2 separate regions of the Homo sapiens genome follow, and region 1 is linked to region 2. Evidence: fine-mapped expression QTL. A gene starts in region 2. The other region holds a variant in brackets. All regions are shown on one strand. Distances are from middle to middle. Region 1 overlaps CYP4V2 (cytochrome P450 family 4 subfamily V member 2). Region 2 holds the start of KLKB1 (kallikrein B1).

Region 1 (5,389 bases), 30 kb after region 2:
CCAGCTCAGCCAACATTGCATTCATGGAACATCTACTGATTTATTCATCATTTGCTCTCTTGGGGGTAGGGTGTACTTCACCACAAGGACATAACTCCAATAGATTTTAACCAAAATTTACAGCAAAGAAAGGACATATTTAAACAGGCAGTTTTTTAATACACTGAAATTATAATTTGATGTATATTTTCAATTAAGTCTTGCTTTTTCAAAACACATTATTAACACAAAGATTGACATCCTATATTCAAAACAACATCACTATCTTCTGGTTATTTTTGAATTGGAAATAGAATACTAATATCTAGTTAGTTTTAATGTTTTCCATGTTAAGATACTGCTATCAATGCCCTCTGCCTTTGAAAATGACTGCCGAATCCAAACATTTTCCAGAAAACTCCTATACATAGATCTTTGTTCCTTTATTCTTTTACACAGCACCCTGTTTGTTCATAAGTGTTCACAGCTCATATCACATGTTGTAATTATGTGTTGATAGATCACCTCTCCTACTAGAATAACTTCCTTTCAGGTACGGACCATATACACATGTCCTACTCATTACTACATTTCCAACATTTGGTATGGTGGTTAGCACTTAGCGAGTACTTAATTAATATTTGTTGACTACATAATTGAAGTATACATTTTTATACTTAAGTATAATTTTTTATATGAAAAATTGTTTTCTATTATTATTCAAGTTTTATTTTCTGAGACATAGGCTCCATAGTCCTACACCGGGTATGTTAACAAAACATCAACATCATGGACTTACCAAAAGTTCTGGAAATGAACGGTGGGGATGGTTGCACAACATCGTGAATGCACTTAATACCACCAAACTGTACAGTTAAAATGGTTATAAAGGGAAATTTTATGTTATGTCTATTTTACCACAATTGTAAAAGTCAGGGACTTACACTGTTGGTAAAAGTATGTAGGATCTGAAGGCTCTTTTTGTGTTCCCATCCTTCTTTAAACATAAGGTACCAGAGATCAAGCCAAAGCCAGGGCATCTTTATTCTTCGAAATATCATCTCACTCATTCTATAAATGGGATAAAAATACATCAGCTGTTGTATCAGAAATGTGTATTTCTTGAGCACTTCTTTAGTACCTGGCCTTGATGAAGGCAATCGTGGGAATGACGATGATTGTCTTAGAGGCTACTAAGAGCTCCATGTTTTATGCTTAGCAGTGAAGGCATGGGCTATTACGCATCCCATGAAGCCTCAGAAAATAATGGGCTCTTTAAAGGAATGAAGGATTCATTATAAAACATCCTTACTAGATAGCCATTTGGTCTCTGCTTCTGCTTCTCCAGGGCAAGTTTCCCACTCTGCCTAGGACCTCTGCACCAGGGTTTGAGATGAAATCGGCCTCTTTTTAAGGTCCATCATTGGTCTGACCACTCCTCTGGAGTGACAGAAGACAACTGGCTGCCCTCTTCTACAAGCGAGGGCTCTCTAAGTACCCATCTGTCACTTGGCTGTCCCAGCACCTCCCTTTCATGTCCAGCCATAGAGCAGAAAGACCCCTATGTGATCTCCTGCAGGACCAGCTTAGGTGCCGGTTCTTCAGAAAGACCTTTCCTGGCCTCTCACTCTGTAGGACACTTTCTTGTTTTGCTCTCTGGTATCAATTTGATCTTTTCTTCCTGAGCAATTATTACAGTTCATGAATTTCTTTGTCCGTTGCCTGCCTCCTGTGTTATTCTGTTTTGTGTACTACTACAAAACCAGTCAGTACCCTGTGCAGTGATTGGAAAATCACAGATGCCTAATAAATATTGGTTAAAATGAAGTGAAATGAGCAGGAGACTTAAATATACTCAGCTCAATGCACTTCTCTGTACTTCATCAAGTCCTTGCCCTGCCTTTTAACAGGTGAATAATTGCAAGCAATTTTAGAGTAAAATTGACTGTTTCGATGACTAAAACAATACCTACTTGGTGCAGAAAATATGGGAAGAAGAATAACAACAAAAGGAAAGCACAAGAATGAGAAACACATACA[C/T]GAGACAATGAGAAACACTGCTAACATTCTGTTATAATATCTGCTAGTTTTTTTCTATGAATAATTTTTAAATATAACAATTATCATGGTACAGAAAACTGTTTATATCTTTCTTTTCTCAGCATCATAATGTAAGCATCATTATGTACAATATAATGTAATCTCAATGTTAGAGAATAATCATTTTAAATTACTACATAATCTAGATGTGCCATAATTTACATAACCTTTACTGCTTAAACACATGCTTACATGATGAGGTTAACTTCTAGTTTAATGTTTAATTTTGAAACCATAAAAAGATACAACGCAGAAATTGTTAGCAATAATTTTTAAAGCCTAAATCAATAATAATTGTTAAAATAACTGAAAGGACTCCATTTACCTATAAACTGCACGGACATACTCGGAATCATCATTACTTTGAGCACCAATATTCTTCCCCATAGCTGTTTCTATAAAATATGGGTGAGAAGCAACCATTCAATTCACGCACGTTAGTTATCTCGTGTTTATTTTGCAGCGGCAGACACTAAAGACGTACATCCTGCTTTGTCCTTGTATATTTCAGAATTCTTCTTCCTCCCTTTACCCTCTTCTCTTGTACGGTCCACTTCTACTCCCTGTTCCTGTTCTTCCTTCCCTTCGCCTCCCTGGGCAGTTGCTCCATGCCTGCCCCACTCACAGCCCTGGGCGTGGCTGCTGCTCCTCAGAAGGCCAGTGCGGTCGTAGAACCGCGCTGAAGAGCCCGTCACCCTTTCCCGTCCCCCCATTTGCCTTCCCGGTGGAGTGTGATTTCCTGTTTGGGCCATTTTCTCTTTATGCCATAAATTTAGAAACAGATCGATGAGACTCACCACAGATGATATCTAAGGCACAAAGAGTGATGTAAAAAAAGCAGTTAAATGCTTCTTGGTTAATGTGTTTTTCAAGTTTCTTAACCAATATATTTGCTTGTTCATTCATGATATCTAAGAAATCTTCCAGAATGGTAAAATGGAAAGTGGGTGTTAACATCTTTCTCCTGGAGCGCCATTTGTTTCCAGTACTAGAAATAAAATATGTGGTTACAAAAAATATATCTACAGAGAGAGAGAGAGAAAGAGAAAAGTAACATCCAAAACGATTAAAGCATAAATATAGCAAGTCAACAAAATTCTCCTGAAACAGCTTCATCTACAGGTTCTCAAATGCTTTTGGCAGAATGACAAAGATATACACATATCTATAAAATATTCATCTATAGTTACAAAATATGAGTATTTTGGACATTGTTCTATACATGTTTAAAATAGCATTCATAAAATTGAAAAATTTAAGAATTTTTCTCAATTTCTAAGTTCCGAGTTTCTAATAATAAATTTATTTCTCCTTCCATCAATACCTCAGTCCTCAGATGATCCTCACACTCCATGGTTCTACCTTGATCTCTCCCCTCTCCAGTTCTCCAAAGTCCCTGCTAGGCTCCTGCCTTGCTCTTGTGGGGCCCTCTCTCAGAGGATGGAGCCCTGTTTCTAGATACCAGCTCACTGTACTTCTCTGGGGCTGACCATCTTTTTGATTGGATTTTCAAGATTTCCCTGCTCCAGACACTCCTTTGCTTTACTGTGTCCTCCATCCCGTCCACTCCCGTCCATCAGGACCTCCTGAGTCTTCCTGAACACTGGCGACAGTCGCTATTGAATACCACAGCTGAAGATAACTGTTCACCTGGACTCTTGGCCTCTTGACGGGCAAAGGCCAGCTGCCAGCTGGACCTTCCTTTCCAGCCTTTCTCCTCCTTTCTGAGAGAACAGTCCTGCTACAGAAAAAGCTACCCTGTGTTAATTCTTGAAATAACAAGTTGCACGTAGAAGTAACCATTTCTATAGACAGCTTTACAAAGGTACACTGGCATACCTTGTAAGAAGTCCTAGGCCAAGCCATGGTTCTAAAAACTTGTACATAGAGGATTTGTCAATTTGCTTTGAACTAGTTAAAATTACCTTAGGAAGAGAAAAACATACTTTAGAGACATACAGACATCAAACAACCTTCCTGTAATTATAGGAATACTGGCTAGAATACAGCTAGTTTTTAGGGCATTCACAACATTTATTTTCTCCGTCGTTCATTTTCAGTCCTGTGCCTCAAAGACATTCAGTTAGAGTTTTGAACATAAAACTGGCATTCAGTCTTGGGGACTCAATGGAGTTGGGGGGAAGAAAGATGTCCCAGATGATTCTCTGGTTCCCGCCATAAACCAGGAACCAAGTGGAGTTATTTAATGTGGGGAGGGGGACAGTGAGGTGGGAGGAGGCGAATCTGGAGGGTGGGCACATGTGGGGAGATGGAAATCATAGGTGTATTTTCAGGTGATGGTAACTTTGAGGCCTTCAGGTTGCTGTGGTCTGAAAGCAAGTGAGACAGCCAAGATAAGGCCTGAGCTGGAGATGCCTGTTCGGAGTGTCCCCAGCATAGAGGCAGCAATGGAAGCCATGAACGTGATCGGATCACCCAGAGTCCACGTGAAGTGGGAGGAGGGATGGGGTCTAGGGCTGAGCACAGGGTGCCCACCAGGCTTCTTGCTCAAGTCCCCTACTCTGGACAGATCTCCATCTGCATCCACCACACCAACTTCTATTAACACTAGGCCAACAGCGGCAGAAATCCTGTCTGCCCTTCTTGCTCTCTTCTCTGAGCCAGGATTCTGGAGAAGCAAGAGAAACTCCAACATTTTCACCATAATTAGAAAGACATGTCCTGGCACTACTTCCTAGGAAATTCAGTCTTTAATTTTGGTCGATGAAGAGAAGCTCTGTTTACCCCATCTTTGTTTCCTGACCCAAATCCTTTTCTCACCATACTACAAGATGATTTCCCCAGACCTTTCAACAAGTAAAAAGACTACAGCTTTTTGGAGGACTAATTTCAACAGCATGGGTTTGTAATATTTATCCCATAAATATCAAATTTGCATTGTCTTTTAAATTTGGACTAAGTTTATCATTGATATGAGACCCTGAGCAACTTGAGGGAAACATATTTTATTAGTCATATATTTTTGAAGTCTTAAAATAGCGTCTGGTGGATAACAAGTGCTTGCCTTGCGGAATAATTTATTTGTGTTTCTAAAAAACGATATCCTTTCAAAAAAAGAATAAATATAAAGGGACCTGATAGCAGTTGTGCACTTATATCTGGAGAATGTTAATCTCCCAGGATTCGGGCTATACCTGGAAAGCATTAAATTGCACCTATATAGTCTAAAATACTTAGTGGAATGTTTTTTGTGCTGAAATGGCTGAAATATAAGGACACGTTATATTGATTCTGGTGAGATTCTCACACTGTCAGATACACAGTACAATACTGATCATATTCACATGTA
Region 2 (5,389 bases):
TGAAAATGGGAAGAATCACAAATATAGCCAAGTTAAAACAACTAGAAGCCATTTTATCCCTGAGATTAGCAAAAATGAAAAATTAAATAACCAGTGTTTGTATACTGGTTTTGATTGCAAATGATGGAAAACCTAGTACAAAGTGGCTTGAAAACAAATGAAATCTATTGGTTCAGGAGCCAAAAAGCCCATGGTGAATCTGGCTTAAAAAGTAACTGCACATTGTGCTCAACTGATAGCATCAGTGGACAATATGTCTCCTTCCACTTGCTCCAGTCTTGGTGTTACCATTACTCTCAAGCTCCACGTAGTAGCAAAATAGTACCAACAACTCAGGCCTGTGTATTGTCTTAAGTTTCAAGTCAAATTGGAAAAAAAAAACATAAGAGTCTTATTTCTAGATGTCTAAAGAAAAGCTTCATTGCAAGACGTTGGCTCTGATTGGGTCACCACAGCCAGGAGGATGTGTGCACTTTCTGGTTCAGCAGAAGAATCAGGGTCACCAGAACCACATGGACCAAAACTGAGAGGCAGTAGCTCTGCAGAAATAAATTAGGACACTGTTTCCAGAAAGATAAATATGTCAGGATGCAAAGCAACAGAAGCCTGTTAGAGTTGGCCTAAGTGGGGTAAATGAGCACTCTTATTAGCTGGTAGAAAAAGTCAACTATGGAGTAAACTTTCTGAAACCTAATTTCATGATACCACACCACAAAACCTTCAAAAATATTCACACCTTTGAATCTAGTATTTTTATTTCAAAAATTGTATTCTACAGAAATAACTGAATAAGAGCATAAGAATGTGCACACAAAAATACCATAAAAAGAGAAGAATAGCAAGCTCCAAAATATATTACTTATTTGCACCAAAAGATAGCTATAAGTGGAAAATGCAAGTCAAAGAGTGTCCACAGTTAATAACTCTTTTTTGTGAAATGTGCAAATAGGTATATGTAGAAAAATATCTGAAAGACTAAATAAAAGATGTTTAACGATGACTGTTTCTGAATTTGGGGACTACATGCAATATGTAGTTTCTAAATTTTTGCTTACTTACATCCCTGATTTTCCTAGCCATAATCATGATTTATTTTGCCAAAAAACAAAACAAAACAAAAAAATGAAAAACCCCCTGTAGTTGGCTGTGGTTCCCAGTGTCTCTGGCTTATGCTCCTTCTCACCTTTCAGTGGGTTTGCACATGGGTTTGTAAATTACGGTTTAGAAGAGAAATCAGGGTTGAGGGACAGACACAGGGGAGTTGTGATTTAGGGGGAATAAAAGTCTTTTTTCCTGGAAAAAAAAAGGTCTCTTTATGAATGTAAACCTTACCTATAGATGTTTATTGTAGCCATACATCTGAGGAAAATTAAATACTCATTGTTGTGTGGCCCTCTTAAGTCACCATAGACCCAGAATCATGCCTTGTGGGGACACAGAGAAAACTCCCTCTGTAATGATTAATGAAATGTCCAGAATCATTTTTATTCTCCAAAAATTAATGAAATTAATAGAGAAATGAGATCTAAATCTGGTGTTGAAAGCTATTCACCTAGAACTATCCAAATGCATGGTTTGCTAAGTTAAATTTAAACCAGTTACTTTCATTTTTGAAATGGTTCCCTAGCGGTCCAGAGTAAAACTATGTATGGTGTTCCTAACAGATACTTGGATTGGACCCAGACACTATAAAATGCCTAGCACTCTTTTGAATTTTCAGATAAAGTTTAATTTTTTACTGTTGATAATAAAAATAGAGGACTAATTTTTTTTTGTTTCAAGTTTTGCTTTGCAGAGTGTCATCTGCGAACAGAAGTTTTTGTTAACACAAGTCCCAAGACATTCCTACTTCTGAGCTCCTTCCTCTGGTCTGCAACATATGTCTACAGCAATATACCTGACAAGTGGTCCTTGTTGTGGAACATTAAATAGACACGTGTCCTGAATCATCAGGGACAATCTCCACCCCCGAAGCTGTATGTTCAATAGCTTTCTCCAGGGGTGGTGCCACTTGCTTGGCTACTCCTGTCTTAGCCTGAATTCCATGTTTTATAGATAATTCACTTACCACAGGAAACTGTAGCAAACAAGGAAATGAAATAAGTTGCTTGCTTGAATAAAATCATTCTAAAAAAGAAAACAATACATAACTCTGCTGGTTTTAGACCACATTTAACATAAATCTTAATTTAAGGTGATTTAGATTTTCTTGTAAATGTCTGAATTGCAAGACAAAGCACACAATTACTGGTATAGAAAACAAGGGTTTTTTTTTGGTACATTTGTGTCTAGGGAGTTGGAAAATTTATAATGCTTCCCAAGATACAAATTGAGACCTCCAGACTACTGTTGTGTTTATTGTTCATTGGCCAACTCTGTGGCTAGTAATGTTGGAAAGGGAATTGGTAGAGAGAGAGTAAACAATTATGAAACCTCTTGATTTGGGCAAAAACAAAATTAATAAATAATGGCAATAATGTCAGTCCAAAAATCCCTAAGTAAAGAAAACCTCTGAAAATATTAAAGCCCATTTAAAAATTTTAAATCAATCAAATATTCTTTCTGATTTAAAATCATCTTACATTTAAATATTTCTACATAAAGGAACATTATCTATACTCTCTACATACTCAGGAAATTAGAATATAAATGATTAATTTTCTCATAAAGTAAAAAATTATACTTAAAAATTATAGTTTATTTGGAAACAATCAGAATAATAAAAATTTGCTACCTGAAAACACAATTGCTTCTTGGAGGTGAGTCTCTTGTCACTTAAAAATGAACGGTCTTCAAGCTGTTCTAATGTGGCACTGCAGGCAATATTTTGCTTGGCTTCAATATTGACTTTGGGTTTCTGCCAACAGTTTCAACTTTTTGTCCTGTCAACATATTCCATGAACATCCTATCCGTGTTCAGCTGTTAAGTATATTAACTATTTCAGGGAGTGATGTCAGCAAGAATAGGAATAGGAGTTTGTCAGAACAGGAGTTTCTAGCGCTCATCCCTTGCAGAAACATCAATTCGAACAAGTATCCATGCACGAAAATAACTTCACTAGAGCTAAGGAATCAGGTGAGAGGTTATGCCACCTGGTTGCAGCACAGAAATAAGAAAAGACACATAGAAGTGTATAGGAAGGACAATTTCACATTACCGGTGTCATCTCACCTTCAAGCCTGGGCAGCACAGTATGGAGAGAGATGCCCTCTTGCATGGAGGAGGGACAGTTAAGATAGAACCTAACTTCACCACAGATCCCAAGCACCAAGCCCACTCCAGTAAACCCCAGCACCAGGATTCAGGCCTGCCACAGGCCAGACCAGCCTCTGTGGCCTCAGCCCCATGCTCACCCCAGACCAGGTCAGCCCCTGGGGCTTCAGGCTCCAAGATGGCCACACAAAACCTAGACTTCAGGCCTGCTCCAGCTCTAGCCTGGCCCCCAAGACTCTATCTAGCCTCCACGTTAGCCCCAGCAACCCCAGGCTCCAAGTTGGCACCCATGGGCCTAGAATCCAGGCCATCCCCTGCAGATCCAGCACCAGGTCAGCCTCCAGAGATCTTGGCTCCATGCTGGGCCATGTGGACCCAGATGCTGGGCTCACCCCAGTGGACCTTGTTCCCAGGACAGCCTGAATAAACTCAGGAACAGGCCTATCCCCATGAACTCAGGTGCCAGGTGATCCCCATGTTAGGCTGGCCCCTGCAGACGCAGGCTTAAGGCTCATTTCAGTGCCAAGTCAGCCCCCAAGGATCCATGCTTCAAGCCAGTCCTTGTGCACAGAATACAGACAACCACAGTGAATGAACCCAGAATCCAGCCCTTCCCACCTTAGAACTCCAGCAGAAATCCTGTGCATAGACCCCAACAGACAGCCCACCAACAATCTCTGGTCAATCTGACTAGTGAATGGCTTTCTCTGCTGAAGCTAGTATGTAAAGACTGAAATAGGTGCCTACTTCAGTGCAAGGCCACACTGATCACAAATAATCGGGGAAACAAGAAACCACCAAAGGAAGGAAATAAAGCAGCAGGAGGTGACCCTAAAGAAATGGAGATCTTTACTGCATGACAAGAGCTAAAAATAATTGCCTTAAGAAAGCTCAATAAGCTACAAAACAATATAGATAGACAGTAAACAAAATCAGGAAAACAATACATGAGCAAAATTAGAAGTTCAACAAAAAGATAGATAGGAACCATAAAAAAGAATGAAACAGAAATTCTGGAGCTAAAGAACAAAATGACTGAATTGAAAAAATTCACAAACAGCTTCAGCAGCAGACTAGATCAAGCAGGAGAAAGAATCAGCATGCTCAGATACAGGTCATTTGAAATTACCCAGTCAGAGTAATAAAAGGAATGATAAAAATTGCAGAAAGCTGACAAGACTTATAGGACACTGTTAAGAAAATTAATATGCATTAGAAGAGTTCCAGAAGAAGTAGAGAAAGAGAAAGTTGCAGAAACTTATTTAAAAAAATAAGAATAGAAAACTCTCAAAATTTGGAGACATAAATGAAATAAACATCCAGATTTATGAAGCCCAAAAGAACTCCAAATAGATTAAATATAAAGAGATCCTCGGCCAGGTGCAGTGGCTCATGCCTGTAATCCCAGCACTTTGGGAGGCCAAGATGGGTGGATCATGAGGTCAGGAGATCGAGACCATCCTGGCTAACACAGTGAAACCCCATCTCTACTAAAAATACAAAAAAAATTTAGCCAGGCGTGGTGGTGGGCACCTGTAGTCTCAGCTACTCCAGAGGCTGAGACAGGAAAATGGTGTGAACCCAGGAGACGGAGCTTGCAGTGAGCCGAGATTGCGCCACTGCACACTGCACTCCAGCCTGGACAACAGAGCTAGACTCCATCTAAAAAAAAAAAAAAAAAAAAGAAATCCTCACCATGACAAAGAGAGAATTTTCAAAGAAGCAAGAGAAAAGCAATTCTTCACATACAAGGGAAGCTTCATAAGATTATTGGTGGATTTCTCAGCAGAAATCATGTAGGCCAAGAGAGAGTGGGATGATATATTCAAAGTATTGAAAGTACAAAACCTGGCAACCAAGAATATAATATCAGGCAAAGCTGTCCTTCAGAAAGGAAGGAGACAAAAAGAATTTCCCAGATGTATTAGTCCAGTTTCACACTGCTGTAAAGATACTACCTGAGACTGGGTAATTTATAAACAAAAGAGGTTTAACTGACTCACAGTTACCCATGGCTGGGGAGGCCTCAGGAAACTTATAATCACGATGGAAGGCAGAGGGGAAGCAGACACCTTCTTCACAAGGTGATACGAGAGAGAGAGTGTGTATGTGCAGGGGAAACTGTCACTTTTAAATCCCTCACTATCATGAGATCACAGCACAGGGGAAACCACC

Evidence for each region. PIP is the estimated chance that this variant, and not a neighbour inherited with it, causes the effect.
Region 1: its variant is the best candidate, but not a certain one, in a credible set for the expression of KLKB1 in lung (TOPMed, PIP 0.71).

The regions. Positions count from the first base shown.
Region 1 is chr4:186,194,618-186,200,006 of GRCh38, reverse strand. It overlaps CYP4V2 (cytochrome P450 family 4 subfamily V member 2), which reads right to left. Exons shown (of 11, transcript NM_207352.4): 3 at 3,919-4,004; 4 at 2,877-3,067; 5 at 2,405-2,474; 6 at 924-1,050. Among named protein-coding and RNA genes, the nearest start is that of CYP4V2, 5.7 kb to the right of the region's middle. The variant C/T (reference allele first, on the strand shown) is at 2,020.
Region 2 is chr4:186,224,933-186,230,321 of GRCh38, reverse strand. It overlaps KLKB1 (kallikrein B1), which reads right to left and starts at 2,815. Exons shown (of 15, transcript NM_000892.5): 1 at 2,735-2,815; 2 at 2,069-2,127. The coding sequence starts at 2,126. RefSeq lists an enhancer at 3,638-4,308.